7 linked regions of the Homo sapiens genome follow. The protein of the gene in region 1 interacts with the protein of each later gene in a pairwise test. Each region holds a gene or a part of one and is shown in the gene's direction. Other genes may lie near its edges. The genes, in order: USP15, TRIM5, BRAP, TRIM74, PHF7, PIBF1 and TRIM46.

What was found.
Region 2: the proteins of USP15 (region 1) and TRIM5 interact in a two-hybrid assay, tested with the Homo sapiens proteins (one large-scale study listed by BioGRID).
Region 3: the proteins of USP15 (region 1) and BRAP interact in a two-hybrid assay, tested with the Homo sapiens proteins (one study listed by BioGRID).
Region 4: the proteins of USP15 (region 1) and TRIM74 interact in a two-hybrid assay, tested with the Homo sapiens proteins (one large-scale study listed by BioGRID).
Region 5: the proteins of USP15 (region 1) and PHF7 interact in a two-hybrid assay, tested with the Homo sapiens proteins (one large-scale study listed by BioGRID).
Region 6: the proteins of USP15 (region 1) and PIBF1 interact in a two-hybrid assay, tested with the Homo sapiens proteins (one large-scale study listed by BioGRID).
Region 7: the proteins of USP15 (region 1) and TRIM46 interact in a two-hybrid assay, tested with the Homo sapiens proteins (one large-scale study listed by BioGRID).

The regions. Positions count from the first base shown.
Region 1 is NC_000012.12:62,382,166-62,386,495, forward strand, and holds part of USP15 (ubiquitin carboxyl-terminal hydrolase 15), read left to right. Parts: intron 1-1,674; coding exon 1,675-1,833; intron 1,834-1,912; coding exon 1,913-2,137; intron 2,138-4,330. UniProt on the Homo sapiens protein: Hydrolase that removes conjugated ubiquitin from target proteins and regulates various pathways such as the TGF-beta receptor signaling, NF-kappa-B and RNF41/NRDP1-PRKN pathways.
Region 2 is NC_000011.10:5,674,602-5,678,931, reverse strand, and holds part of TRIM5 (tripartite motif-containing protein 5), read left to right. Parts: intron 1-497; coding exon 498-728; intron 729-4,330.
Region 3 is NC_000012.12:111,657,818-111,662,147, reverse strand, and holds part of BRAP (BRCA1-associated protein), read left to right. Parts: intron 1-1,472; coding exon 1,473-1,548; intron 1,549-2,802; coding exon 2,803-2,941; intron 2,942-3,302; coding exon 3,303-3,412; intron 3,413-4,330. UniProt on the Homo sapiens protein: Negatively regulates MAP kinase activation by limiting the formation of Raf/MEK complexes probably by inactivation of the KSR1 scaffold protein.
Region 4 is NC_000007.14:72,958,864-72,963,193, reverse strand, and holds the end of TRIM74 (tripartite motif-containing protein 74), read left to right. Parts: intron 1-1,748; coding exon 1,749-1,844; intron 1,845-2,942; coding exon 2,943-3,173; intron 3,174-3,285; coding exon 3,286-3,312; 3' UTR 3,313-3,709; downstream 3,710-4,330.
Region 5 is NC_000003.12:52,413,402-52,417,731, forward strand, and holds part of PHF7 (E3 ubiquitin-protein ligase PHF7), read left to right. Parts: intron 1-594; coding exon 595-647; intron 648-1,094; coding exon 1,095-1,186; intron 1,187-4,330.
Region 6 is NC_000013.11:72,819,770-72,824,099, forward strand, and holds part of PIBF1 (progesterone-induced-blocking factor 1), read left to right. Parts: intron 1-2,079; coding exon 2,080-2,213; intron 2,214-4,330.
Region 7 is NC_000001.11:155,176,215-155,180,544, forward strand, and holds part of TRIM46 (tripartite motif-containing protein 46), read left to right. Parts: coding exon 1-17; intron 18-717; coding exon 718-861; intron 862-980; coding exon 981-1,076; intron 1,077-1,787; coding exon 1,788-2,041; intron 2,042-2,277; coding exon 2,278-2,399; intron 2,400-2,594; exon of another isoform or gene 2,595-2,632; intron 2,633-3,417; coding exon 3,418-3,720; intron 3,721-4,220; coding exon of another isoform or gene 4,221-4,288; exon of another isoform or gene 4,289-4,330.

The DNA.
Region 1 (4,330 bases):
TCAATATAGTTCTTAAACTTTTAAGGTTATTCACATGTGTGAATTGTTACTTATCAAATAATTTATTGTTCAAATAAGAATTGAGCTGAAATTTAGCTTTATGGCTGAAATTTAGCTTTATATTGTTAAAAAAATGCCTACTTAATTATATAGGTGAAACTTTGAGAAGTTTTAAACTTGTAGAGAGAATAAGCAGTTTTAAGTCGTTATTTATACAAGTAATTTAAATGGCATTGATAGAGGACATCTACTGGACAACATTTTTTATTAGCTATATACTAGTTCTTAGAAAATAAAAAACCAGCAAATCAAAATGCCTCTGTATTGTCTTCCTTAACATTCTAAACTTTGGACAAACTAGTCCAGACAAACCATCTCTCAGCTCTTACTAGCATTCTAATTGGTTTTATTTTGGTAGATTTTCTCTCTTAAAATTATGTGTAAATAGGTTCTTTATGTGTGACTTTTTTTCTGTCAGATGATGATTCATACTATTACATTTATTTTCAGTCTCATCCAAAAACAAAAATACTTAGTGATGAAAGATTAGGAAAATTGAATATGAACATTAATGTTTCTGTTATCTCTGTGATACTCATCCTCCTTTTGCGCATAGAAACTAAGTGAGAGCCTAGAGTAGTTATCTTAAAAATGCTTTCAGATACGTAATTATCTTTATGTGGTAATATAGCAAGGATGAGAACCTGCCTCTTCCTGTCTACCTACCAGACATTTATAGGAGGAGGCAATAGGAATACCTAAAGCTAAGAATTAAGGACATCTGGAAAATCCTTTGACAAATAGTGAAACAACAATTAATGACAATGAAATCTATGACCAAACAAAGATCAATACATTTTTATATATTAAAGATTACATGTGTTGATCTATTTTGTCCCAGATAAGCTTTGTTGAGTGCTTACTAGGAATGCAAAACAAAATATAATTCATATATATTCCTGTTGTTCGTGTATACAATTTTTATTATTCACAGGAGTTATGTTCAATGAAGCTGCCACAAACACTGAAATAACAACTACTGAACCATTACTCCTAGGGAAACTATAGGGTTTGATTCCTCCAAGCCTTTGTTCACAACATTTTCGTCAACCAGACAATGTATAACTTTGTTTTGCATGTGTTTCTGTTTAAAAACAACTTGTTTAATATATATTGTTGAGTCCTTAACATTGAACTCACAGCAAACAGTGCTATAACTCATGTCTTAATGAAGCATATCTAACACATACTTTTTCTCCATAAAGCACATCACAGCTTTCTTGCATTTAGGAACACTAGCTGGCATGTTTGTACTTCATTTAGTGACCATTTTAAACACTGAAATTAACAACAAAACAAACAAAAATGTGAAAAAACATAACACTAAATAAACTACAAAGGACACTTGTTTATAGATTCAGAGCTGAAACAACAAGCCAAAGCATCACCTTGTTCAACCCCAGCTGGTAACATGCATATCAGGTGACTCAAATTTTTTGCCACTCTGAAAATATCTACAAATGACCATGAATTGATTTTGGGGTTACAAATACATTTTAGAAAGCAGGCAAATTCACAAATGTGGAATCCATGAATAATGAGAATCTATTGTACATATGTTTAAAAATCAACCCTGTTCCTAGAACTGATTTGATGGTTTTGCATTTCTTACAGACACAGGTAGGACGTTTTGCACCTCAGTTCTCTGGATATCAGCAGCAAGACTGTCAAGAACTGTTAGCTTTCCTATTAGATGGATTACATGAGGATTTGAATAGAATTAGGAAAAAACCATATATACAATTAAAAGATGCAGATGGAAGGCCAGATAAGGTAAATTTCATGATCCTATTGTCACCATTGTTATAATTTTGTGATACCTCTTTCTAATTTGTGTCTATTATCCTTGTAGGTGGTTGCCGAAGAAGCCTGGGAAAACCATTTAAAACGAAATGATTCTATCATAGTAGATATATTTCATGGCCTTTTCAAATCAACTTTAGTTTGTCCTGAGTGTGCTAAGATTTCAGTAACATTTGATCCTTTTTGTTACTTGACACTTCCATTGCCCATGAAAAAAGAACGCACCTTGGAAGTTTACTTAGTTAGAATGGATCCACTTACCAAACCTATGCAGGTAAATCATGGGTTGGTTTGTTTTGTTTTTTTTTTTTTTTTTTTGCATTTGTTATTTTTATTAAAAAATTAGTGTTGAGTCCTTATTATAAAAATTAAGTATTGAATTATCAAGCCCAATCAATAATGTTTATTTGTATAAGAGATTTTATAAGCTGAATACTTTGGAAATCAGTGTAACTTTTTACAGTCTTGAAAGAGCAACGTGTGTCTTATAAAAAATTCTCAAAAGGCTTTTTATAGAGGTTTATTTTTATAATATTGGGGTGAATATTAGCTTATGAAGATCAACATAATATTTTTAATTTTTTTAAACTTCAACTTTCTTTAGTGTTAATTGTAATTTTTTTTTACTAGTGGCTATTGGAAGTAAAGCTAATACTTTTAATTCATAGTGTGATAGTAGTGTATTTAAATACCTGTAATTTTTAGGCATTTTAGGAACTTAAAAGAAAGTAGAAATTCAGTTAGACTAAAAATATTTTGTTCAGTGATGTTCTCTAATTTCTAATACTTTGAAGTATCACATATTGTTTATTCTGTGCAAAAGTCCTGTGGTAAGTCTTACTGTCAAATTGTCTGCCTGATTCCGTTACCTAGTGTTATAATTGGATTATTTATATTTTGTGGGTAAAGCACTATCTTTTCTCCCTTATTTATTAATCAGTTAATCCTCTTCTGACACTTGACCCATCCCAGTGAAAGTAACTTCTTCTTTTTCTACCTCTCTTTCCCTAAATTCTAACACTTAACTAATTTTGTTATAACTTTTGGCTTACTTTTATCTTTTATCCCTAGACTACAAGTCTTTGAAGACAGAGACCTTGTAAACCTTTGTATTTCCAGCTTTTGTGGCTGGTAAATATTAATGCACAAGAAGTATTCAAAAATTTTATTCATCAAGATACTTAACTATGCACCTACTAAGTATAAAGCTCTTTGGCTAAACAAAAAAGATATGATTCCTGCTTTAGAAGATTGTTTTCTGTAAATTTTTAGCCAAATAGCTCAGTTTGTTAGTGCATAATAGTCACGATGTCTATATGAAAGCTATATTTGAACAAAATTATGATCTTACCATTCAGGGATGTATTTGGGTTTATTGTCAACAAAGACAGGGTATATGTAGTGTTCATAAACACACAGTCCTTTTATTCAAAGTAATTAAAGTCTAGTAGATACTAGGTATGTACTCAGTTATGCAAATTTAAGCAATTTGTTTTTCTGCTGCTTTATGTTTTCTTTATGAACTCATTGAACACAATGCCCTCATATCAGTATTTCACTGGAGAGTGCTAAGTACTATCCCTTATCTGTGAGCAGAGCCAATAAAGACCTGCTTTTACTTTTGGCCTGGGGAATATGTGTTCACATTTTTAAAGTTATATCCTTTAGATATTCACTTATTCACTCGTTTATAAGTACAAGATTGTCAACATTCTTTTCAATGGTGAGAAACTATAACAGTGCCAAACCACATCCTTACCTCTCTAGTTTATAACTTTGCAGATATACACCAATGAGTGTAATGGAGCAAGAGAGCGTAGAATAATAAGTATAAATTTACTGCAACAAAAAATAAATGTAGATGTTTTATTTCTCTACAGCACATTTGTTAGAGATAATATTCTCCCATGCCAATAATATAAGGTAATCTATATCAATAGTGGCAAATTGCATTAATTTACACATTAGTCCATAAGGTATATGATAAGTGCTCTTCCATAAATTGGGCTCTAAATTATTTTTCCAGCAATGTGAATTTCATTGACTTATCACTTTTCTCATTTGGTGACCAATAATATAAATTTGCGGAGGTTAGAGCCATGGTTAGCACAGAGAAATTCGTTTGTTTTTGTGTTTTGTGTTTTTTTTTTTTCCTTTTTTCCATTTAGAGGCAGTAACAACTCAAATACAAAATGATCACCTCATTTCATTAACACTATGCTTTGACCAGCTTGTAAGAAAAGTGAAATTAGCTGAGTTTCCCTATTTGTTGAGTTTTCCCGTCATTGAAGTTGATTTAGGTCATGGAAGCTTATTAGGAAAAATATTGAATATATATTATATCTTAGGCTCTTATGCTGTGCAAGGTGCTAGAAATATAATGGTGTTTCTAGTCCTTGTTCTTCAAGAAGCTTGTCATACAGTGTGAAAATTGCTCTGACAGGGTGCTGCAAGAGAACACAGAGTA
Region 2 (4,330 bases), on another chromosome or scaffold:
GTGGTGGCTGAGGAGTGAATATGTCACAGTGAACACAGTAGGGAGCTCTTTACATGAAGGATCTCTCTGGTGAGGATGGCTAGTGAATCCTGCATTCTATTTTTGTGCTACTTTTTGAGTCCGTGACTCTACTTGGGGAAGACATTTGGCAATGGCTCATGATTCTGTCCTCAGTGTTCAACTTTTGGCAGGGAGTTTGAGCTTGGGCTGAGAAGTAATACAGGCAGGCATGAGTGTCCTGCATAGCTGTGTGAAAGGTAAGCTACATCCAGGTAACCCATTTTGATGCAGGATGAACCTCAATATACCCATTCAAGGTCATTGTTTTAAAATGTCATGAAGGAAAAGAAATAGGAAAAGGCAGCTTTCCTAAGACCTACTCTCCTGCTACTATGTCCCCTCCTTGTGAGAACTCCCCAAAAGAAACAGCTCCTTTTCTGGCTAACAGCCTCTGCCTGGTAGACTGAGTGCCCCTTTCTCTTCTCTTATCTCTGAAGACTCAAATACAGTATGACAAAACCAACGTCTTGGCAGATTTTGAGCAACTGAGAGACATCCTGGACTGGGAGGAGAGCAATGAGCTGCAAAACCTGGAGAAGGAGGAGGAAGACATTCTGAAAAGCCTTACGAACTCTGAAACTGAGATGGTGCAGCAGACCCAGTCCCTGAGAGAGCTCATCTCAGATCTGGAGCATCGGCTGCAGGGGTCAGTGATGGAGCTGCTTCAGGTAAAAAGTGGAAAGAAGCCTGAGCACTGAGATTAAAGAAAAGTGAAGGCTATTTCCTTCTCTGCGTTGCTGTGCTTTTTCTAATATTAACAATGTTCTCTGCAGGACCGCTTTTCTGAATCAATTGCTGAAGTTATAAGAATAATTGAATGTAGAAGTAGCAAGAGATAATCCCATTTTTATTAATTTATCCAGAGCAGTAGAAAAATTTGACGTAGTGGAGATGATCAATTAGCTCTAGTCATGTTTGATAGGTTCCTATTCTCTGTATTCTAGTGTTGAGACTTACCAGTGCAGCTTTTCATTGCTCAGCTTAGCCACTGGCAAACAAATACACGTCAAAATACAAGATGCTTTTTATTTTTTTCCTTCATGGAATTAATTGAGACTTTTTCCTTTTTTTTTAATTTTCTGAAAAGAATTAAATAACTGCTATCATTTCTTCTTTATATGCTCAATAGAATTCACTAGTAAAGGCTGGGCGCGGTGGCTCACGCCTGTAATCCCAGCACTTTGGGAGGCCCAGGAGGGCCAGTCATGAGGTCAGGAGGCCCAGGCGGGCCAGTCATGAGGTCAGGCGATTGAGACCATCCTGGCTAACACGGTGAAACCCCGTCTCTACTAAAAATACAAAAAATTCTAGATCCCTGAGGAATCGCCACACTGACTTCCACAATGGTTGAACTAGTTTACAGTCCCACCAACAGTGTAAAAGTGTTCCTATTTCTCCACATCCTCTCCAGCACCTGTTGTTTCCAGACTTTTTAATGATTGCCATTCTAACTGGTGTGAGATGGTATCTCATTGTGGTTTTGATTTGCATTTCTCTGATGGCCAGTGATGATGAGCATTTTTTCATGTGCTTTTTGGCTGCATAAATGTCTTCTTTTGAGAAGTGTCTGTTCATGTCCTTCGCCCACTTTTTGATGGGGTTGTTTGTTTTTTTCTTGTAAATTTGTTTGAGTTCATTGTAGATTCCGGATATTAGCCCTTTGTCAGATGAGTGGGTTGTGAAAATTTTCTCCCATTTTGTAGGTTGCCTGTTCACTTTGATGGTAGTTTCTTTTGCTGTGCAGAAGCTCTTTAGTTTAATTAGATCCCATTTGTCAATTTTGTCTTTTGTTGCCATTGCTTTTGGTGTTTTAGACATGAAGTCCTTGTCCATGCCTATGTCCTGAATGGTACTGCCTAGGTTTTCTTCTAGGGTTTTTGTGGTTTTAGGTCTAACGTTTAAGTCTTTAATCCATCTTGAATTGATTTTTGTATAAGGTGTAAGGAAGGGATCCAGTTTCAGCTTTCTACATATGGCTAGCCAGTTTTCCCAGCACCATTTATTAAATAGGGAATCCTTTCCCCATTGCTTGTTTTTCTCAGGTTTGTCAAAGATCAGATAGTTGTAGATATGCGTCGTTATTTCTGAGGGCTCTGTTCTGTTCCATTGATCTATATCTCTGTTTTGGTACCAGTACCATGCTGTTTTGGTTACTGTAGCCTTGTAGTATAGTTTGAAGTCAGGTAGTGTGATGCCTCCAGCTTTGTTCTTTTGGCTTAGGATTGCCTTGGTGATGCGGGCTCTTTTTTGGTTCCATATGAACTTTAAAGTAGTTTTTTCCAATTCTGTGAAGTCATTGTTAGCTTGATGGGGATGGCATTGAATCTGTAAATTACCTTGGGCAGTATGGCCATTTTCACGATATTGATTCTTCCTACCCATGAGCATGGAATGTTCTTCCATTTGTTTGTATCCTCTTTTATTTCCTTGAGTAGTGGTTTGTAGTTCTCCTTGAAGAAGTCCTTCACGTCCCTTGTAAGTTGGATTCCTAGGTATTTTATTCTCTTTGAAGCAATTGTGAATGGGAGTTCACTCATGATTTGGCTCTCTGTTTGTCTGTTGTTGGTGTATAAGAATGCTTGTGATTTTTGTACATTGATTTTGTATCCTGAGACTTTGCTGAAGTATACCATTTGACCCAGCCATCCCATTACTGGGTATATACCCAAAGGACTATAAATCATGCTGCTATAAAGACACATGCACACGTATGTTTATTGTGGCATTATTCACAATAGCAAAGACTTGGAACCAACCCAAATGTCCAACAATGATAGACTGGATTAAGAAAATGTGGCACGTATACACCATGGAATACTATGCAGCCATAAAAAATGATGAGTTCATGTCCTTTGTAGGGACATGGATGAAATTGGAAATCATCATTCTCAGTAAACTATCGCAAGAACAAAAAATCAAACACCGCATATTCTCACTCATAGGTGGGAATTGAACAATGAGATCACATGGACACAGGAAGGGGAATATCACACTCTGGGGACTATGGTGGGGTGGGGGGAGGGGGGAGGGATAGCACTGGGAGATATACCTAATGCTAGATGACGAGTTAGTGGGTGCAGCGCACCAGCATGGCACATGTATACATATGTAACTAACCTGCACAATGTGCACATGTACTCTAAAACTTAAAGTATAATAAAACAAAAACAAAAACAAAAAAAACACAACAGAAGAAAAAAAAAAAAAAAGAAATGCAAGAAAGCTAGCACCCCCAGGGGCATCCTTCAACCAATGGGGTTGGGAGTTGATGGAGAAATGCCTCAGCTCTCAGTGTTTCGGGCAGAGATTCTGGGGCATTCCCAGGAGGTTTGGTGGGATCATGATCCCATAATGCCCAGAAACAACCCCAACAGCTTACTCATACATTGGCTTCTCCTCCTCCCTGTCTTACCTCCCTGCTCCCTCATTCCTGCTTCCTGGGGTCAGGTAAATCACCTGGACCCAGGTCCTTGTCTCAGGCTCTACGTTCAGTGTTTCTCATGCTGTATTCCTCGGAACCCCAGGGCACCTTAGGATGTGTCTACCCCTCTCTCACCTGCATTTGATTTAATGCTCTGTTGTCATCATCTTGAAATGTTTAATAAATTTTGAACAAGGGGCCGCATATTTTCATTTTGCATTGTACCCCACAAATGAAAAAAAATAATACAAAAAATTAGCCAGGCGTGGTGGCGGGCACCTGTAATCCCAGCTACTTGGGAGGCTGAGGCAGGAGAATAGTGTGAACCCGGGAGGCGGAGCTTGCAGTGAGCCAAGACTGCACCACTGCACTCCAGCCTGGGCAACAGTGCGAGACTCCATCTCAAAAAAAAAAGAAAACTGCTCTTATCCCAATTTTCAAGAATACAATACATTGTTAACTATAATTGCCACATTCTGCAATAGATCTCTTGAAGATAGTCATCTTTTCATTCTGAAGTTGGTGTCCTTTTACCAATATCGGCCTCAACTCTCCCTACACCCCAGCTCCTGGAAACCCCTCTTCCACTCTCTACTTTTATGAGCTCAACTATTTTTTACATCTACATACTAAGTGATGTTATACAGTATTTGTCTTTCTGTTCCTGACTTACTTTACTTAAAGTCCTCCATGGTGTGAGATAGTCTTCTGCATATGGCTATCCAGTTGTTCCAACACAACTGAGAATGGTCCTACCACTGAGGGCAACCTCGCATTTAGATAGCTCGTAGACTGAGTCCACTGCACAGATCTAGAGCCTAGGCTGTGAGATACGGCCTGGAGGCTTAT
Region 3 (4,330 bases), about 49 Mb from region 1:
TTTGTGTGGAGTATAATAGAAAACAGTTAATGGATTTTTTCAACATTGTTTTTATTGGCTTTTTGTAAATTGAGACATGAATGCCTGATAGAGCACTGGTATCTTCCACATGATGTTCACGGTGCAGTGAGATATCATGTGCATTTCAATAAGTACATTAACACCTTTGTGTTTAGCCAGGTGCGGTGGCTCATGCCTGTTATCCCAGTACTTTGGGAGGCCAGCATGGCCAATATGGTGAAACCCTATGCCCACTAAAAATACAAAAATTAGCTGGGCATGGGGGTGCATGCCTACAATCCCAGCTACTTGGGAGGCTGAGGCAGGAGAATCATTTGAACCTGGGTGGCAGAGGCTGCAGTGAGCTGAGATCGCGCCACTGCACTCTAGCCTGAGTGACAGAGCAGGACTCTGTCTCACAAAAAAAAAAAAAACCTTTTTTTTTTACTACAGATTTTAAATCCAATTCTTAGGAGCAACCTGGAGAAGAAAGGGTACTTTTTGAATGATTTAAATCTTTGGGAAATGGGGATAAGGCAGGTTGTTTGTTGGAGTAAAAATACATTATAGGCTGAGCACGGTGGCTGACGCCTGTAATCCCAGTACTTTGGGAGGTCAAGGCAGGCAGATCACCTGAGGTTGGGAGTTTGAGACAAGCCTGACCAACAGGGAGAAACCCCGTCTCTACTAAAAATACAAAATTAGCTGGGCGTGGTGGCGCATGCCTGTAGTCCCAGCTACTCAGGAGGCTGAGGCAGGAGAATTGCTTGAACCTAGGAGGCTGAGGTTGCAGTGAGCTGATACTATGCCGTTGCACTCCAGCCTGGGCAACAAAAGCTAAACTCTGTCTCAAAAAAAAAAAAAAAAACAAGCTGGGAGCTGTGGCTCACACCTGTAATCCAAGCACTTTGGGAGGCCAAGGCCAGTGGATCATGAAGTCAAGAGATCGAGACCATCCTGGCCAACATGGTGAAGCCCCGTCTCTACCAAAAATACAATAATTAGCTGGGTGTGGTGGTGCATGCCTGTAGTCCCAGCTACTCGGGAGGCTGAGGCAGGAGAATCGCTTGAACCTGGGAGGCAGAGGTTGCAGTGAATTGAGATCGCACCACTGCACTCCAGCCCAGGCAACAGAGCAAGACTCTGTCTCAAAAAAAAAAAAAAATTATAAATAATCAGACATGAAATGAAGTCCTAATTGTAACCTGTAAATACTTAGCTCTTTGATCATCTAAGCTTTAGACATAAGAGCGGAAAAGGACATGAGGCAGATCCCAATTTCTCTGTTCTCTGTTTTATCAAGATTTTGTATATTTTTATTTTGTATATTTTATTTTAAGTGATATCCTTAGTTATGATAAAAATAGCATATAAGAGGAGGAGGATATAAAATCCAGTGTTTGACTTTTGGGTTCTGTAACAGCTGTCTTTTATATTTAACCTGCACCATTATCTTTTGGTGTCCTGGATAGGTGTCCTGTTTGCCGGTACTGTCAAACGCCCGAGCCAGTAGAAGAAAATAAGTGTTTTGAGTGTGGTGTTCAGGAAGTAAGTAATGGGTGATGGAAAAGAACAAAGAATGCAGCTTTAATTGTCATGAGTTTTCTTCTGCCTGGTATGACTTAAGTTCTTTATTTTTAATTTATTTTTTATTTTTTATTTTAAGAGACAGGGCTTACTGTGTTGCCCAGGCTGGTCTCGAACTCCTGGCCTCGAGCGGTCCTTCCACTTCAGCCACCCATAGTGCTGGGATTGCAAGTGTGAGCCACTGCACCCAGCCTAAATTCTTTAAAATTTTTTTTCTTTTTGTCTAGGGTTGGGCAAGACATATGAATACACAAATTATGTTACTCCTGAGCTAAATTTATTCCTTTTTTCTTTGCACTTTTGAAAGGCTTAGACTTTTACTGATGAATTGTGAATTTTTTTCTTGCTGTTCACATAGTGCTCCTTAGAAATCAGCAAAAAAAAAATGACCCATAAAAGCATCCTTGATTGTTGGGTTTTAAACATACATTTAATCACTCAGGCTCCTGTAGAAACAGTTTTTTCTTTTTCTTTTTCTTTTTTTTTTGAGACAGGGTATCATTCTGTTACCCAGGCTGGAGTGCAGTGGCATGATCATAGTTCACTGTAACCTCAAATACCTGGGCTCAAGCCTTCCTCCCATCTCATCTTCCCAAGCAGCTGGGACCACAGGTGCATGCCACCATGGCCTAGTAGGTTTTGTTTTGTTTTGTTTTTGTTTTTTCTAAAAAATTTTGTTTTTGTTTTTTCTACAAAAAAAACATTTTGTAGAGTTGGGGTCTTGCTATGTTGCCCAAGCTGGTCTTAAACTCCTAGGCTCAAGCGATACTCCTGCCTCAGCCTCCCAAAATGCTGGGATTACAGGTGTGAGCCACTGTGCCCAACCAACAATTCTGTCTTCTAGTGTCTCAGGTTCCTTCCCACTCTGAGTGAGCTGGATCGATTATTTGTTTGTTTGTTTGTTTTAAGACAGAGTCTTGTTCTTATCACCCAGGCTGGAGTGCAGTGGCACGATTTCGGGTCACTGCAACCTCCACCTCCTGGGTTCAAGCGATTCTCTTGCCTCAGCCTCCTGAGTAGCTGGGATTACAGGCAGCTGCCACCACGCCCAGCTAATATTTGTATTTTTAGTAGAGATGGGGTTTCATCATGTTGGCCAGGCTGGTCTCGAACTCCTGACCTCAGGTGATCCATCTGCCTCGGCCTCCGAGCCATCGCGCCCAGCCAGATCATTTATTTTTATTTAACTAATTAAGATCTTACCTCTTCCGGCAGAATCTTTGGATTTGTTTAATATGCGGCCACATAGGATGTGGACGGTATGTCAGTCGACATGCTTATAAGCACTTTGAGGAAACGCAGCACACGTATGCCATGCAGCTTACCAACCATCGAGTCTGGGACTATGCTGGAGGTGAATACCACTCTCTTTTCTAATTTGGACTCATTCTGTGTGGAAACTTTGCCTTCACAACGCCTTCACTTTCCCTCCCAGCTTGAAATGTCATCTTTTGACAGCTGTTGCAAACCCAAATTCTCAGTTTCCCTGAGGGCACTATTTTTCTAGGAATGTCTTGAATCACACATTATAAAGGGAGTTAATACTTCCATTCTTGCTTTCTCCCTCCCCTCTAAAATTCAAATGATTTGACACTTTTAAAGAAATATTGTAAGGCATTTAAATTAGATCTGAAAAAAAAATTTTGTCAGAGTTAAAAGTGTACAGAGACCCTTTTCATTCTAAAGAAACACACTTTTGTTGACTCTTTCTGTAGATAACTATGTTCATCGACTGGTTGCAAGTAAAACAGATGGAAAAATAGTACAGTATGAATGTGAGGGGGATACTTGCCAGGAAGAGAAAATAGATGCCTTACAGTTAGAGGTAAGAGATTTAATGAGTTATCACTCTATCTGTTTCTACTGCTCTTTACTATTCTAATTTGAAATATTTGTCATTTACCTGGATGTACATTTTTTTTTTAAAGTTTGGTCATGGCCGGGCGCAGTGGCTTATGCCTGTAATCCCAACACTTTGGGAGGCTGAGGCAGGTGGATCACCTGAGTTCAGGAGTTCAAGACCAGCCTGGCTAACGTGAAACCCTGTTTCTACTAAAAATGCAAAAAATTAGCTGGGCATGGTGGCACACACCTGTAATCCCAGCTCCTCGGGAGGCTGAGGCAGGAGAATCGCTTGAACCCGGGAAGCAGAGAATCGCTTGAACCTGGGAAGCAGAGGTTGCAGTGAGCCGAGATCGGGTCATTGCACTCCAGCTTGGGCAACAAGAGCGAAACTCTGTCTCAAAAAAAAAAAAAATGTTTGGTCATTGCTGTGAGGTGTTATTAAAATATTTTTATTCTGTTTTTCTTCTTTGAAAGTCTAAATGTCAGCTGGGTGCAGTGGCTCACACCCCTGTAATCCCAGCACTTTGGGAGGCTGAGGCAGGCGAATCACCTGAGATCAGGAGTTCAAGACCAACCTGGCCAACATGGTGAAACCCTGTCCCTACTAAAATTAGCTGGGCGTGGTGGTTCATGTCTGTAATCCCAGCTACTTGGGAGGCTGAGGCACCAGAATTTCTTGAACCTGGGAGGCAGGGGTTGCAGTGAGCTGAGATTGTGCCACTGCATTCTAGCCTGGGTGACAGAGCAAGACCCTGTCTCAAAAAAAAAAAAAAAGTCTAAGTTTCACTGTGCCTTGTTACTTTCATTGTGATGTCTGTAGTTGTCTCAAGTTCAGTGTTAAGATTTGTTTTCCCGTAGCTACAGGCTAGAGTACAGTGGTGCAGTCTTGGCTCACTGC
Region 4 (4,330 bases), on another chromosome or scaffold:
TAAACCGACGGGGGCTCTGGTCAAGTCATGGAGTAGATGGTGGTCCAGGAGTCCTGGTTGGCACCCCCAAGGCTAGGTCAGATTTGGGGCCCGGGCAGTCCAGGAGAAGTGCATTTATGTCAGCTTGGGGAGGTCGCAAATCCGTGCTGTGTCCAAGCCCACCAGGAATGGATTCAGGTGTTTATAGGTGTGGGGATTCACCAGGTTAAACCCAGGCCCGTGTGAGCACCACTGGCCCTAGAATTAGCCTCACCTGGCGCCGGCCTTTTTGTGATGGCTCCTGATTAAATACCCACTAATTCTGGATCTGCTGGTGACCACAGAGTTCACCTGATGGGTCCCCTACAGGCAGCATTCAATCCAGGAAGTGCCAGCATCACATGGTGACTTCTGGTAGCTGTAACATTTAGTGACTGTCTCCATGTCATGCACAGGGGTGACATCGAGACCCTCTTATGCCTGGGAAGTTCCTGCTGTCAATGCAGAATATTCTCTTTTTTTTTTTTTTTTTTTGAGACGGAGTCTCGCTCTGTCGCCCAGGCTGGAGTGCAGTGGGCGATCTCGGCTCACTGCAAGCTCCGCCTCCCAGGTTCACGCCATTCTCCTGCCTCAGCCTCCCGAGTAGCTGGGACTACAGGCGCCCGCTACCACGCCCGGCTAATTTTTTGTATTTTTAGTAGAGACAGGGTTTCACTGTGTTAGCCAGGATGGTTTCGATCTCCTGACCTCGTGATCCGCCCGCCTCAGCCTCCCAGAGTGTTGGGATTACAGGCGTGAGCCACCGCGCCCGGCCCAGAATATTCTTTGAAGAAAAAAAAAACATTAGAGATGGGATTTCACTGTGTTGCCCAGTCTGGTCTCAAATTCCTAGCCTCAAGTGATCCTCCCATCTTGGCCTCCTAAAGTGCTGGGATTACAGGCATGAGCCACTGTGCCCAGCCTAGAATATTCTTTTTTTTTTTTCTTGAGATGGAGTCTTGCTCTGTTGCCCAGGCTGGAGTGCTGTGGCGCAATCTCGGCTCACTGCAACCTCCTCCTCCCAAGTTCATGCCATTCTCCTGACTCAGCCTCCGGAGTAGCTGGGACTACAGGTGCCCGCCACCATGCCCGGCTAATTTTTTTTGTATTTTTAGTAGAGACAGGGTTTCACTGTGTTAGCCAGGATGGTCTCGATCTCCTGACCTCGTGATCAGCCAGCCTCGGCCTCCCAAAGTGCTGGGATTACAGGCGTGAGCCACCGCGCCCGGCCCTTAGAATATTCTTGAATTATCTTATTTTTTATTTTTATTTTTTGAGACAGAGTCTCACTGTGACACCCAGGCTGGAGTGCAATGGCATGATCTCAGCTCACTGCAACATCAATCTCCCAGGTTCAAGCGATTCTCGTGCCTCAGCCTCCCAAGTAGCTGGGACTACAGGTGTGTGCCACCACACCTGGCTAATTTTTGTATTTTCAATAGAAATGGGGTTTCACCATGTTGGCCAGGCTAGTCTCAAACTCCTGACCTCAAGTGAAGTCCCACCTCAGTCTCCCAAAGTGCTGGAATTACAGGCGTGAGCTACTGCGCCCAGACTATTCTTGAACAATTTAACCTGTTTTGGACTCAAGGGTACCTGGGTGGCTCTGGTTCCCGCCCTGGTTTCCCTGGGAGTGCTTGTGGCCATTGGGATACTCCCAAGAAGGTGATCCAAGGAGCTGAGAAGGGGAGGGATCAGCTGCTCATGGGGCCATGGCCTGTTGCCTCCAGGAGGAGCTCGCAGCCCTCTTCTCTGAGCTGAAGCAGGAGCAGAAGAAGGTGGATGAGCTCATCGCCAAACTGGTGAAAAACCGGACCCGAATCGTCGTGAGTGCCCCTTCCCTCTGCCCCTGCCTGGGACCGGCCACCTTCACTTTCCTGTAGAGCTCAGTTCTCATTGGTCCTTTACAGAAAACCATGCCTTCCATATAAAGCCAGAACTCAAAGCATTCCGGGGCGGGGTGGGGAAAGCGCAAATCCTCTCAGGGGAATTCAACCCAGTTGTCGTTAGGACTGGCTCCAAGTTGGCTTTTGCCCTCTGTGTCCTTGAGACTGAGATAACCCAGGACTTGAGTCTCGGGGGTAAACAGCTGAAAGCATGGGCGTGACTCCTCCGCCCCTGTGCCACCTGTGTCTGCTTGACCTTGCCAGCCTGTCATGGTGCCCTCCCAGTACCTGGGTGCGCAGGCGTGGAGAGGCTGGCAGCCCTGGGCCCTGGCTGATCTCCTGAACTGAGAGGCACATGGGGCTGGGACGCATAGTGCCCCGGCCCTGGAGGTGGCTGTGAAACAGAAACAGGAGCCGAGCAAGATCCAGAAGCACTTGGCCTCCCTCATTTACCCTCCTCACCCTTGCGCGGCAGGCGGTATCAGCCCTGCCTGGTGGAGGCGGAGCTCAGGGTTCTGCAGGGAGTTCTGGCTCCCTCACAGCAAAGCCCGCTCGCCCAGGGCCTTCCTGCTTTCCTTCAGTTGTGGAACTCTGGGATATGCACATTTAATAGCTGAAATAGGCAAAGTGGGGTGTGGTGGCGTGCATCTGTAATCCCAGCAACTCGGGAGGCTGAGGCGGGAGGATTGCTTGAGGCTGGGAGGTCAAGGCTACAGTGAGCTATGATCGTGCCACTGCGCTCCAGCCTGGGCAACAGAGTGAGACCCTGTCTGTTAAAAAAAAAATTAAAAATTAAAACAGGCCAAAGCAGAGCCTCTCCATTTGAAATGGGAGCTGGGGCCACCCTCCCCACGGCCACCGCCAGGGCTCCCCATGCATGGGGTGAACTCCCTGCCCGGCGCCAGGCCATGCAGCCTCCCCTGAGACTCAGGTCCCAGGACCAACCCGGTCAGGAAGGCCCTGGGGACACCGAGGCCAGCCAGACAGAGCCTGGCAGCTCGGCTGTGACTCTGCAGTGAGCAGCCCTCCCTGTCCCAGAATGAGTCGGATGTCTTCAGCTGGGTGATCCGCCGCGAGTTCCAGGAGCTGCGCCACCCGGTGGACGAGGAGAAGGCCCGCTGCCTGGAGGGGATAGGGGGTCACACCCGTGGCCTGGTGGCCTCCCTGGACATGCAGCTGGAGCAGGCCCAGGGAACCCGGGAGCGGCTGGCCCAAGCCGAGTGTGTGCTGGAACAGTTCGGAAATGAGGACCACCATGAGTTCATCTGGGTGAGTGGACAGGGAGGCGTCCCATCCCCATACCCGCCAGGGCCTTCCCCTTCCCAACAGTGCCCTGGCTTCCCACCTTCTAGCCTTAACCTCCCTCTCTCTTGCCTTCCAGAAGTTCCACTCCATGGCCTCCAGGTAATAACCTTGGAGAGAGCTCAGCCAGGGTCTGGTGGCTGCGGGCACGGGCATCTCAGCTCCACTGGTTCCTCCATTCAGCTTAACCAGCGCCTCCCAAGCAGCTGCCTATAGCTGGCTCTATAACTGAGCCTGGGGAAGATAGAGGAAAGTCACGTCCCTGCCTTCAAGGGTCTCGCAGACAGGTGGGGAGGCAGATGGTGAACTGTGGGTACCTAGAACAGCAGAAGTTCACTCAAGCTACAGAAATACTAGAGGAGGGTAGCTCATGCCTGCAATCCCAGTACTTTGGGAGGCCAAGGCAGGAGTATTGCTGGAGGCCGGGAGTTCGAGACCAGCCTGGCCAATGTAGTAACACCCCCGTCTCTACAAAAAATACAAAAATAAAAAAATTAGTTGGGCATGGTGGCATGCGCCTATAGTCCCTGCTACTCATAAGGCTGAGGTGGGAGGATTGCTTGAGCCCAAAGTTTGATGCTGCAGTGAGTCATGATCATGCTACTGCATGATCCAGCCTGGGTGACAGAGCGAGACCCTGTCTCAGAAAACAAAACACTAGAGGAGGAGCAGGTGTCTGGGAGGCCTGGCAGAGGGGCACACGCCTGATGGCTGAGAAGGGCCCAGGACCCGAGTTTGCCAGGCAAGCCGAGGGAACAGTCCTGTAAAAGGGGGAGTGGCGTGCGGACTCTGGTTATGAGAAGTTCAGGGTGGCTGGATGTAAGGCAGGATATCAGGAGGAGTGGGAGCTGGGAGAGGTGGGAAATGGCCAGAAGCAACATCCAGGAGCACCAGGCATCCCTTGCTTACCGTCCTCACCCTTGCGCAGCAGGCAGTATCAGCCCTGCCTGAAACTTGCTCTGCAGATTGTGGGAAGAGAGCGGATCCATGTTCTAGACCCAACAAACGAACACGTGCAGTTCCCAAGCCTTCCTCACTCCCTGTTTATGGGAGACTCCTTGTTTCTCACATTTCTTTTAGTCTTAGAGACAATTTGGTCAGGAGACATGGGTTTAAATGAAGGC
Region 5 (4,330 bases), on another chromosome or scaffold:
GCAGTAAAAAAGTAAAAGAGGGTTTGCTCTTGCATTCATTCAGTCAACATAGGCAGTACAGGCACTGGGGAGAGAAAGATGCTTACAATCCGGTTCCTGCCCTCAAATAACTCAGTGAGTATGTTTTGCACTTAAAAAAAATATGAAATATGGCCAGGTGCAGTGGCTCATGCCTGTAATGTCAGCACTTTGGGAGGCCGAGGCGGGTGGATCACCTGAGGTCAGGAGTTCAAGACCAGCCTGGCCAACATGGTGAAACCCCGTCTCTACTAAAAATATAGAAATTAGCTGGGCGTGGTGACAGGCGCCTGTAATCCCAGCTCCTCGGGAGGCTGAGGCAGGAGAATTGCTTGAACCCAGGAGGCAGAGGTTGCAGTAAGCTGAGATCGCACCACTGCCCTCCAGCCTGGGCAACAGAGCAAGACTCTGTCTCAAAAACATATATATGTGAAATATGAAAAGAAGCTGATGTCTTAGGCTTTAGATATGTTGGTCCTTCATCAGACCCATGAATGGCATTTTAAGAGAAATGTTAAAAAGGTTATCAACAAGATCCCCAAAGAACACCTTGTGCTTCTTATTTCTCTTGTATAGAAAATCTGCCAAGACTAGGAGGGTAACCCAGAGGAAACCGTCTTCAGGGCCTGGTAAGAAAGACTGGAGCTTGTGTTCGCCCACTGCCTCCAGCCCTCAGCAAAGAAGGCCACCTGTGTGGGGCAGTATACTTGCTTCTTCTCTCTCTCCCAGCCCTACTTCCTTCCTAGATTCTCTAAGATCTTGAGGACTCAGGAACTGCCATTTTAAATTACCATGTCTGAAGTTCAAGAAACAAGTTATTAAAGTCACTTTAGAACAAAACAAAACCAAAAAAAAATGAAGTGAGCAGTTGTGGCCAACTTTTTCATTGTAACCAGAATTATGTGACAGACTAATTGATACCACATAAGACCTCATCCCAACCTTCCTCCTTGCCAAAATGACCCTTTTCCTAGTATTCTACTCCTTCCTGACTTAGAGGAATGGTTACATTCTCACCCTTCTCTTCCATTCTTAATGGTCAATTTGAGCCAAATTCTGGGTGTCCTCTCTTCCAGTTTGCTGGCTATGCCTTCGAGAACCTGGGGATCCCGAAAAATTAGGGGAATTTCTTCAGAAAGACAATATCAGCGTGCATTATTTCTGTCTTGTGAGTATGAGGCCTCCTTTGCTTTGAATATCCTATGGCTTTTGGTGTACTGACTGTTCTCTGTTACATTCATCCTCATATCCACAGCCTTGTTTTTTTATTTTTCTTAATAGCTTTTTTGTTTTAAAATCTATTTTTAGGCTGGGTGCAGTGGCTCACGCCTGTAATCCCAGCACTCTGGGAGGCCGAGGCAGGAGGATCTCTTGAACCCAGGAGTTCAAGACCAGCCTGGGCAACCTTGTCTCTACAAAAAAATTAAAAAAAAAAAAAAAAAAGCTGGGTATAGTGACAAATGCCACTCCGGAGGCTAAGGCAAGAGGATCGCTTGAACCCTGGAGGTGGAGGCTGCAGTGAGCAGTGATCACACCACCACACTCCAGCCTGGGTGACAGAGGAAGACCTTGCCTCAAAAAAAGAAAAATATATGTGTCTGGTATAAAATCTTGACAGTATAAAGTAAGTTCAGTAAAAAAGTCTCTTCCCTAAACAATGTTCCCAATCCTTCTCCCTCTCCCCAGAAACAAATGCTGTCAAAGTTGTAACATCCTTCCAATTGCTTTTTCCCAGTATTTTTTTATTAGGTATAACTTTCATACTGTAAAAATCACCAATTTTTTTCTTTTTTTGAGAACGGAGTCTCACTCTCTTGCCCAGGCTAGAGTGCAGTGGCGTGATCCCGGCTCACTGCAACCTCTGCCTCCCTGGTTCAAGTGATTCTCCTGCCTCAGCCTCCCAAGTAGCTGGGATTACAGACACCTACCACCATGCCTGGCTAATTTTGTATTTTTAGTAGAGACAGGTTTCACCGTGTTAGCCAGGCTGGTCTTGAACAAAATTCACTAATTTTAAGGGTCCAGTTTGATAAGTTTTGATAAATGTATGTCCCCAAATAACCACCACCCCAATCAAAATAGGTAATATTTTCATCACCCCAGAAAGTTCCCTCCTGCCTCCTTTTCCAGTCAATCCCACTAGACGTAATCACTGTTCTGATCTATGGATTATTTTTGGCTATTCTTTTACTTCATATAAGTGAAATCATATAGTTTATAATCTTCTGTATCTGGCTTTTTTCTCCCAACACAGTGTTTTGGAGATTCATCCATGTTGTTGCATGCATTCATAGCTTGTGCCTTTTTATTACTTGGTAGTATTCGGTTGCATGAATAAGTTACTATTTGCTTATCTGTTCACCTGTTGATGAACATCTGAATTGTTTCCATTTGAGGACTATTATGAATAAAGCTACTTTAAGCATTCATGTACAAGTCTCTTTGTGAACATGTGCTTTCACTTCTCTTGTGCAGATGCCTAGAAGTGGAATTACTAGTTGTATGCTAATTAGATATTTAACTTTATGTGAGGTTGCCACATCACTGTCCAAAGCGGTTGTACCAGCTTACACTCCTACCAGCAATTTATAAGAAGTCCAGTTGCACAGTATTCTTGCCGGAACTTTGTTTTGTCAGTGTTCTTAATTTTAGCCATTCTACTGGGTGTGTATTGGTATTTCATTGTCGTTTTAATTTCCATTTTTCTGATGACTAAAGCTTCTTTTCATGTGCATATTGGCCATTCACATATTTTCTTTGGTTTTTTGGTTTTTTTTTTTTTTTGAGATGGAGTCTCGCTCTGTCGCCCAGGCTGGAGTGCAGTGGTATGATCTTGGCTCACTGCAGCCTCCACCTCCCGGGTTGGAGCAATTCTCCTGCATCAGCCTCCCAAGTAGCTGGGACTACAGGTGCCTGTCACCACGCATGGCTAATTTTTATATTTTTAGTAGAGACAGGGTTTCACCGTGTTAGCCAGGATGGTCTCGATCTCTTGACCTCGTGATCTGCCCACCTCGGCCTCCCAAAGTGCTGGGATTACAGGCGTGAGCCACCGCGCCTGGCCCGGCCCACATATTTTCGTTTGTTAAGTATCTGTACAAATATTTTTACCCATTTAAAAACACTGAGTGGTGGTCGGGCACAGTGGCTCACGCCTGTAATCCCAGAACTTTGGGAGGCCGAGGCGAGCAGATCAAGAGGTCAGGAGATGGAGACCATCCTGGCTAACACGGTGAAACCCTGTGTCTACTAAAAATAAAAAAATTAGCCGGGCATGGTGGCAGGCGCCTGTAGTCCCAGCTACTCGGGAGGCTGAGGCAGGAGAATGGCGTGAACCCAGGAAGTGGAGCTTGCAGTGAGCCGAGATCACGCCACTGCACTCCAGCCTGGGCGACAGTGCAAGACTCCGTCTCAAAAAAAAAAAAAAAAAATTGAGTGGTTTTATTATTGAGTTGTAGGAATTGCTTATATATTTCAGATACAAATTCTTTTTCAAATATATGTATTGAGACTATTTTCTTCCTAGTCTTTGGCTTGCCTTTTCATTTTCTTAATGGTGTCTTTCAAAGAACAAGTTTGTAATTGTAATGGAGCCCAGTTTATCCATTTTTTTCTTTTATGGTCAGTGCTTTTTGTGTGTTGCAAGAAATCTTTACCTACCCATAGAATTGCCTTGGTGCCTTTGTCAAAATCAATTGACCATATATCTGTGGATCTGGATAATCTATTTATGTCATTGATCTATGTATCTATTCTTACACAAGTCCCCACTGTCTTGATTATTGTGGCTTTATAGTATATTGAAATTCAGTATTGTTAAGTTCTACAATCTTTTCCAAGATTGTTTTGACTATCAGGTCCTTTCTTTATAAAGTTTATATTAAGCTTGTCAATTTTTCTTTAAAAAAAAAGTCTACTGGGATTGTGATTGGGATTGCATTGAATTTATAGGTCAATTTGGGAAGAATTGACAAAAAATATTGAACCTTCCAATCCATGGACATGGTATATTTTTCCACTTATTTGGGTCTTTTAAAATATATCTCAGCAATGTTTTGTTGTTTTGGTGACAAAGTCTTGTACATCTTTTGTTAAATGTATTCCTAAATATTCTGTGGTTATGCTATTGTAAATAGTATTTTTATTTCATTTTTAAGTTTATTGCTGGTATATAGAAATGCATTTTATTTTTGTATATTGATTTGTATCCTGTAATCTTGTTAAATTGAGTTTGATTAGTTGTTTTTTTATTTTGTTGTAAATGCCTTGTTACAGGATTCCCTATGCACATAACCATGTCATGTGTGAATAA
Region 6 (4,330 bases), on another chromosome or scaffold:
TAAATACTTTAAAGGCTTTTTGTTGGTTCTCGGTAATATTTCTTAGTACCAATCAGTAGTGTTTCTCAATATTATTGACTGCTTCAAAGCACTGTCTTCCACTGTTTTTCCTGACACACACCCCTGGTTTACCCATTGTTTCTGCGAATACTCCTTTGGGTTTTTTGGGATCCCTGTTTTTTGCCCATCCTTTAATGTTTATATTCCTTGTATTTATGTTCCTCCAAATTCTGTCATGGCGTTTGCACAGTTATTAAGCTGTTAATTTGGCTATGATCTCTTTGGAAGCCAAAGCAAAGAGGAAGCATTATAACAATATTAATTTATAGTTAATCAGCATTTACTACGTTAGACATTTTTATAAGCACTTTACATGTATTACTTGATATATGCTTCACAAGAACTCTGAGGTAGGACACCAGAATAGAGAGGTAAACTAACGTGCACAGAGTCTTACTGCAGGAATTCAGTTTTAGACAGTTGAATTCTGGAGCTTGCCTTCCTAGCCATAACACTATACTCTCTTCCAAAACAGTGACATGATTAATGATGTTTAGAAGGATAAAGCATTCTTCAGAAGAACTAAAGATTCTTGTAGGACTTAGGTCCGAAATGATATATGTGATGATCTTTCGGGAGGTGATAGCGTATCCTCAGCTGTAATCCCATAATAAGTACCATAGTAACATTCCATTCTCATGGAAAACTTCAGCGTAGAACAAGAACATAATACCATACCAAAGCAAAACACACTGAATGTAGTTTTTCCATAATTACTTCTCTCAAATAGCCCTTTGATAGAAATTTGGGGACTAAAATAATCAAAGTTACATTTAGTAGTTTAAAAAGGACAAAATCGTCTTACTCATCTTTGTATCTGTAGTGCCTAATCCGTGACCAGTCACACAGAAATGATCCAGTCAGTATGTGTGGAGTGAACATGACCTCATTTAGCTGGCCAGCTACTTAAGCAGTAATGACTTAACACAGGATGCATTTAACATGCCAGCTTCTGAAGGTGGAGTTGATGATTGGTTGCAAGATTTGATGAGTTCAAAGAAGGAAAATAAGTAGGAATTTAGTCCCGTCTGCTTCCCCTCCCAGCTTCCCATATTTAATCATTTCTTTTTTAGCTTTTATTTAATTCTTATTATATACCTGGCAGTGTTTAAAGTGGTGGAGGTCCAGCGTTGAGCAAGACAAAATCCCCACCCTTAAGATGTTTACACTCTGGTGAGATAAAGAGAAAACTAATGTGATGGTAATGATACAGTGAGATCAGTGCTCTGAAGGAGACAAGCATTTAGATTATATGCAGGTATTCAGGCAGTGGGAACAGGTTAGAAGCAGCATTAGTGGGTTCAGACAATTTCAGATCTCCATTAGGGTTGGAGGGTGAAGTGTGAATGTTAGGAATGGTGAGAAATGGGGCTTGTAGGAAGCAGCACCAGATTGTAAAGAACCTTGTGACCAACTTTAAGGTTTTTACTTCCATTGCTCTTCCCATATCAGCAATGCCTTTCTTAACATGCTACTGACATGGGGAGAGTAGAGGGAAGAACAATGTAAAGATGTGTTTCGAGGGTCACACGATTCCTTTTTTTCTGAGTAACACAATTGGAACTGCATGTTTAATCTCTTCATTAATTATTTTTCATTGTAGATACTGATATCCATATGACTTTTCATCTCTAAACTGTAAAATCCTCAAGAACAGGAAGTGTGTTTTATTCACTTCTGTATCTTCAGCATCTGATAGTAACTCAGTAAATGTTTTTAAAAAGTCATTTAACATTTGTAGTCATTTTATGTTTTAGCCTAGTAACTAAAACATAGTTGTTGTGTTATTTATTTGAAAAACAGTTTAAGTTTTAAACAACTGAGTTTACAGACCACTCTGTGAACTTAAGATTACTTGCCTTTGAATAGGGAAAAATTACTAAATTTAAAAATTGAGGAATTTTTTTTACTGTTTAATTACAAGGACAATCACAGCTTAACAGAAGACTTCAATACAGAATTTGGGCAACTATGTTAAGTGTTTAGTCTGAAATGTGTTATTATTCCTTTGGTTTATAGACATATGAGGAAGATCGAAAAAACTACTCTGAAGTTCAAATTAGATGTCAACGTTTGGCCTTAGAATTAGCAGACACAAAACAGTTAATTCAGCAAGGTGACTACCGTCAAGAGAACTATGATAAAGTCAAGAGGTAAGTAGTTAAAATGGCTGCAGTAGTAGTTCTCTATTTTTAGGGTGCATCAAAGTCACCTGAGTTTTTACCAACAATCAGTTGTTAATTTTACTTTTACCTTATTCTTCTTTGCACAAATGCATGCAGTTTTGGCAGTTTGTTGGGTTTATATTGTATTTTTATATTGGTTGTTTTTGTTTTATTTAGATGTCACTGCTGTCTTAAAATGTAAACAGAGATAGAAACCCAGTAAAATCACACGTGTGTAAATATTTTTTCAGTGTTATTTGATGATTATTTTTATGTAGTGGAATCAATTTAAATACTTAACAGTTTTCCCTGAAGTTTTTTTCAGCTGTTTCTTCCTGACAAAAGACACACACTCTTTCAAAAAAAAAATGACACTTTCTGAAAATATGTTTCCTAATATTTGCTACTTATAGCAAATACCTTTTTTTAACTGGAATATTCTTTTCTGTTGTTTGTTCAGTAATTTAATGAGCTGCTACTTAGCTGTATGTCCCTCAGTACATCTCTTTTCATTCTGAGCCTAAGTTTCATCATTTATGAGATGTTGCTAATACGGATAACTGCACTATATAAACTAAGATCAAATAAATATGAAAGCCTTTAAATATATATGTACTGCATATGTAATATAAATGGAATGACCTTATCTTAATTGTTCACTCCACTTGAAATAATTCTTAAAATGTAGTAGTCAGTGAATATTTGTTAAATGAATGAATGATTTAAATTGTGTAATTTAAATTACAAATTGCATAATACCGTATGTGAATTTGCAAAGATTTGTGGATAGAAGATTGTCATTTCTACTCCCATTATGACTGACACATGGTATTTCTTATGTATATGGCATTATGCCAAAATATGATAATTATTGGAGCTTTAAATCCATGAGAGCTGTGCTCAGTGGGCTCTGGAATAAAGCTGGAGTTCAAAAGAAGCATTTAAAAATGAAGTAGAGGGCATAGTGGCACATGCCTTTAGTCCCAGCTACTTGGGAGATTGAGGTGGGAGGACTGCTTAAGCCCAGGAATTCGAGGCTGCAGTGAACTATGATCATGCCACTGCACTCCAGCCTGGTGGCAGAGTGAAACTTCATCTCTTAAAAATATAAAATAAAAAAGAATAAAAATGAAATAGATTATGATGCTAAGATGATACCAGTTGGTATTTTCATGTCCCCTCTGCCACTATCAGTCTATAGCAATGACAGATACAATATAAAAAGAGAAAACTAAAAAGCACAGTCATCAGAATAATCCATCGGGGCCACGGATGATCATTGAAACAAGATGAGTCATGAGTTGATAATTACTGAATTTGGGTGATGGGAGCATGGGTGTTCATTATATCACCTCTATTTTTACATATGTTTTCATTTACTATAATAAAAACCTAGGAAAGAAAAATATAACCTTGATCAAAAAGCATGATAAGCATCTTTATGGTAGAAATGGAATAGTAAAACAAGAAAGGACTCAAACTATGACCCTTTTTAGTTCACTCAGCAGAATGAATGAGTTTAAAAACATCGGTCATAAAATATAAGATAAACTGGGGAAGAAAAAAAAGCCCTTTTATGCCCCGGGTAAATTCTCACAAATGTACAAAAGGAAACAGGTGTATGGATGTTAATTGTGTCATTATTAAAAGAAATTCAAATGCTTTTCAGTAGCAGAATGGAAAATAAATTGAGATTTACTCTGCAATATAATTTTATGTAGCAGTTAAAATCATTAAATTAGATCTGAATGTATCACTTTTTTTTACTAAAAGTTCCTTATTTTCTGGCATAACATAATGTTCCTAGTTTTGGTTTTCGTTTGTTGGTTTTGTAATTTCATTGCCTCAGCTCTTTGTCTAAGAAGTCTTGATCTCTTAGTGGGGAATGCTATTTAGAAATTTAGGATTTGGGTGCTATGGTCATGGCTACATTGGTCATTATTTCTAGGCCCTTTGAGTAGGCAGAGAAAGTAGAGGGAGAATGAGGAGGAGGCTTAACACACTATGGATGAGATCATACTGATACTTCTTTTTTTTGAGACAGAGTCTCACTTTGTCACCCAGGCTGGAGTGCAATGGCACGATCTCGGCTCACTGCAACCTCT
Region 7 (4,330 bases), on another chromosome or scaffold:
TCTCCTTCCGACCCAAGGTGAGCCAGCCCTTCCAAGGCCTGGGGAGGGAGGGACATGCTGCTGCAGGTGGGTGGGGGTGCCTGGCATTGTGGGTTTCCAAAAGGAAGTGGGAAGGGTTTTCCAATGCTAAGCACCTATCTCTGTAATCTGTCACAAAGTCACTGGACAAATCATTCAACAACTTTGGGCCTCCATCTCATTTACATCCCTGTAGGGGGATGGTAGTATCTGCCCTGCAATGTCCATACCTAAAGGGTTGCTGAGAGGATGGTGTGAGATAATGTTTGTTCACTAAAAAGTGTTACCTGCACACTGAAAAGGTCTGTGTGCATTCACTCACTGAACAAATATTTATTGAGCACCTATGTGCATGGTGCTATTCTAGGTGTTGGAGATACAGCAGTAAACAAGATGGACAAGGTTAATTATTAACTACCAGGCAAAGATTAATTGGCATCATTATTACTGTTATTACCATATATCCCAATGAGAGAGATGAAGGGAGGTGCAATGCTGGTGAAATGGGCACCGCCCGGAGACTGCAGGAAAGGCTCTTTGATGCCAGTATGTACCACCAGGTGGCACTGTGGAGCACCACCAGCGGATGTCTCCACTCCCATCTTGCCAGTGGAGGAGGGCACCAAACTGCTGTAGTGGTAGCATAGCACCCTTACCCACACCATTGTCTGACCATCACATTGTTCTTTGTGTCCCTAGGGCCTTATGTGCCCAGACCACAAGGAAGAGGTGACCCACTACTGCAAGACATGCCAACGCCTGGTATGTCAACTCTGCCGGGTGCGGCGCACCCACAGCGGGCACAAGATCACACCAGTGCTCAGTGCCTACCAGGCCCTCAAGGTAAGGACCCCCCTTATCCAACCCTAGTGCTAACTCACACTCTTACCCTCTTGCACCTCCTCCCAACTGCTGGCTTCTGCAGAGCTGGGCTTGATGCCCACCTCTTTCTTCCCCCTCAGGACAAGCTGACAAAGAGCCTGACATACATCCTGGGAAACCAGGACACGGTACAGACCCAGATCTGTGAGCTGGAGGAGGCCGTGAGGCACACCGAGGTGAGGGAGGGCACAGAGGTAGGCCCTGGGCCCTGCCTGGGAGTAGGGGCAGGAAGGGGGTGTGGGTGATCATGACCCAATCACCTTGTTGCTAGCTCAGGAAGCCCGTGAGGTGTCCAGGTTCTGGTTAAACCAGGTTTGCAGGAACACCAGTGCCCCAGGCCAGGCTGTACCTGGGCTGCAGGAGGGGGCAGGGTGGCTATAGCTCAGGAGAGTGCTCGAAAAACCCCATGCATAGCTCAAAAAACCCCACGCGTAGCTCAGATGCTCTCAGGCTCAGGTGCCTACCGAGGATGTCACGCATTCCCAGTGCTAGAGTGAGGTGATGACTGATACCTTCTGCCAGGTTGCTTGAGCTGGCTGACATGGGGATGGACAACTAAGGATGGCATAGATGCCAGTGGACATTAATTAGTGCAGTCCAAGTGGACATTAGGGTAGCCATGGCCTCGTTCATTTGGATGAGTCACTAAGGGGCAGAGATTATGATGTGGGGTTCCGGGAAGGTTGGCACAAATGACCAGGAGTTGAGTCCATCTAGAGGTGCCTTTGCAGCCATGAGCCCAGGCCCTGTAGGAATGGGTGAGTAGGATTTCCCCAGATCCCTTGTGACCTTAGCCATGCTGTGGCATCCAAGGAGGCCAGCACAAGTGCTGCCTCCAAAAAGAAGATAGTAAGTCACGCATCCTTTGGGTGTTGCTCCCTGGGCAGGTGAGTGGTCAGCAGGCCAAGGAGGAGGTGTCGCAGCTGGTGCGGGGGCTGGGGGCTGTGCTGGAGGAGAAGCGGGCATCACTGCTTCAGGCCATTGAAGAATGCCAGCAGGAGCGGCTGGCCCGTCTCAGCGCCCAGATCCAGGAGCACCGGAGCCTGCTGGATGGCTCAGGTCTGGTGGGCTATGCCCAGGAAGTACTTAAGGAAACAGACCAGCCTTGCTTTGTGCAAGCCGCCAAGCAGCTGCACAACAGGTACTCAGGGGCATGGGCTCCTAGGGGGGCAGGGACATCATGGATGTGACCAACATCTAGGACAATGTCTACAGTACTGCCAGGTGGAGAACTGGCATTCTAAGGATTCTCATGAGGCCAAACTGATACCAGCTCCCAAAGCAGTTCCCAAGGCTCTAGGGGCAAGCAAGACAGAATTGAGGGGAAGGGAGACTGCCCACATGGCAGTGCCTGACCCTTTCTTGCCCCCATCCCAGGATTGCCCGAGCCACTGAAGCCCTCCAGACATTCCGGCCAGCTGCCAGCTCCTCCTTCCGCCATTGCCAGCTCGACGTGGGACGTGAGATGAAGCTGCTGACAGAGCTTAACTTCCTGCGAGGTAAGGAGATGGCCAGGCCCCATGCCCAACCAGAGCCTTCTTCCCTTCCTCCCCAGCAGCGGGCCCGGGGGGCAGTGCCTACCGGGGACCTCCCCGGCCTCCTGCCCGGCCTGGCCAGCCATTCCTCCCACCCAGCCCACCCTGCCACACCGTCCTACCGCGCTCAGCGCTGCTTCTCCCTCTCTTTGTTTGTAGGCTGTGGCCACCGCGGACTCTGCTCCGGAGCACCCCAGGCAAGTCAGCGGCCCTGCCCCGGGGGCCCTGCCCGCCGCCGGGCCCCCTTCCCACCCCGCTGCTCCCACGCATCTCAGCCAACCACTCATTGCTTCCTTCTCTTTCCTGCCTTGCCCCGACCTCGTGGTCCTCCCACTGGACCAATGCCCTGTCTCCCTTCTGCCTTCTTCAGGCGCTTGCGTAATCCTGGCCCTTCTGACCTTTTGTCCTTGTGACCCTTGCCCTCTGGCCTTGCACTTCCTTTCCCTTGACCTCCAACCCCTGCCCTCAGCTTTTGCTGTCCCTCTGTTGTCCCCACTTTCCACCTCGCTGCCTCCTAAATCTCTCTTCTGAGCCTGGTCCCCTTCCTTCCTGCTCAGCGCCCTCTTGCCTGTGGGCTCCAGTGGCCTTTGCCTGCCCCTCCCTGGGGCTCCTCTTAATTCATAGAATAACTGAGCTGCAAGGGCCCCCAGAACTTACCTGATCTGATACCCTCATTTGACAGGGGAGGAAACTGAGGCCCAGAAAGGGGAAGTGACTTATTCCAGGCCAGAGTGAGGTAGCAGCAGCCCAGAACTAGCACACAGGTGTCCTGACCCCCAGCCCAGCGCTTTCCTGCCTCGTTCTCTCTTGGGCCCTGCCCTACCCCTCCTGTGCCCAGTTCCCAGATGAGCCCTTCCCCAGCTCCCTCTCACCCACACTCACCCCCCCGGCTCCCGCTGCTTTCCCTTTTCCTGCCTGCCCCTGCCCTCCATGCCAGGCCAGTGGCCAGGCCCTGACTGACACCCGCTGTCTCTTCCAACAGTGCCTGAGGCCCCCGTCATTGACACCCAGCGCACCTTTGCCTATGATCAGATCTTCCTGTGCTGGCGGCTGCCCCCCCATTCACCACCTGCCTGGCACTATACCGTTGAGTTCCGGCGCACGGATGTGCCTGCTCAGCCAGGCCCCACCCGCTGGCAGCGGCGGGAGGAGGTGAGGGGCACCAGTGCCCTGCTTGAGAACCCCGACACGGGCTCTGTGTATGTGCTGCGTGTCCGCGGCTGCAACAAGGCCGGCTACGGCGAATACAGTGAAGATGTGCACCTGCACACGCCCCCGGCACCTGGTGAGTGGGCAGGCACAGGTGGTCGTGCAAAGGGCATGGGGTATGCCAGGGCCTAGGCCCTGACGGTTGGTTCCGGTGGCCGCTAGAGAGGCCATATAACATAGTAGGTCTCACACACACTAGCTCTGGAGCTAGACTGCTTGGGTTCAAATCCCAGCTCTGCCTCTTGCCAACTGTGTGGGTGGCTTCTGGCAAGTTTTTACCCTCTCTGAACTTCAGAGTCCTTTTCTGTAGGGATAACGATAATACTGGCCAGGTGCAGCGGCTCATGCCTGTAATCCTAGCACTTTGGGAGGCCAAGGAGGGAGGATTGCTTGAGGCCAGGAGTTCAAGACCAACCTGGCCAACACAGCGAGACCCGATCTCTAAAAAAATAAATAGGCCAGGCGAGGTAGCTCATGCCTGTAATCCCAGCACTTTGGGAGGCCGAGGCGGGCGGATCACAAGGTCAAGAGTTTGAGACCAGCCTGGCCAACATGGTGAAACCCCGTCTCTACTAGGAATACAAAACTTAGCCAGGCGTGGTGGTGCGTGCCTACAATTCCAGCTACTCGGGAGGCTGAGGTAGGAGAATCGCTTGAACCTGGGAGGCGGAGGTTGCAGTGAGCTG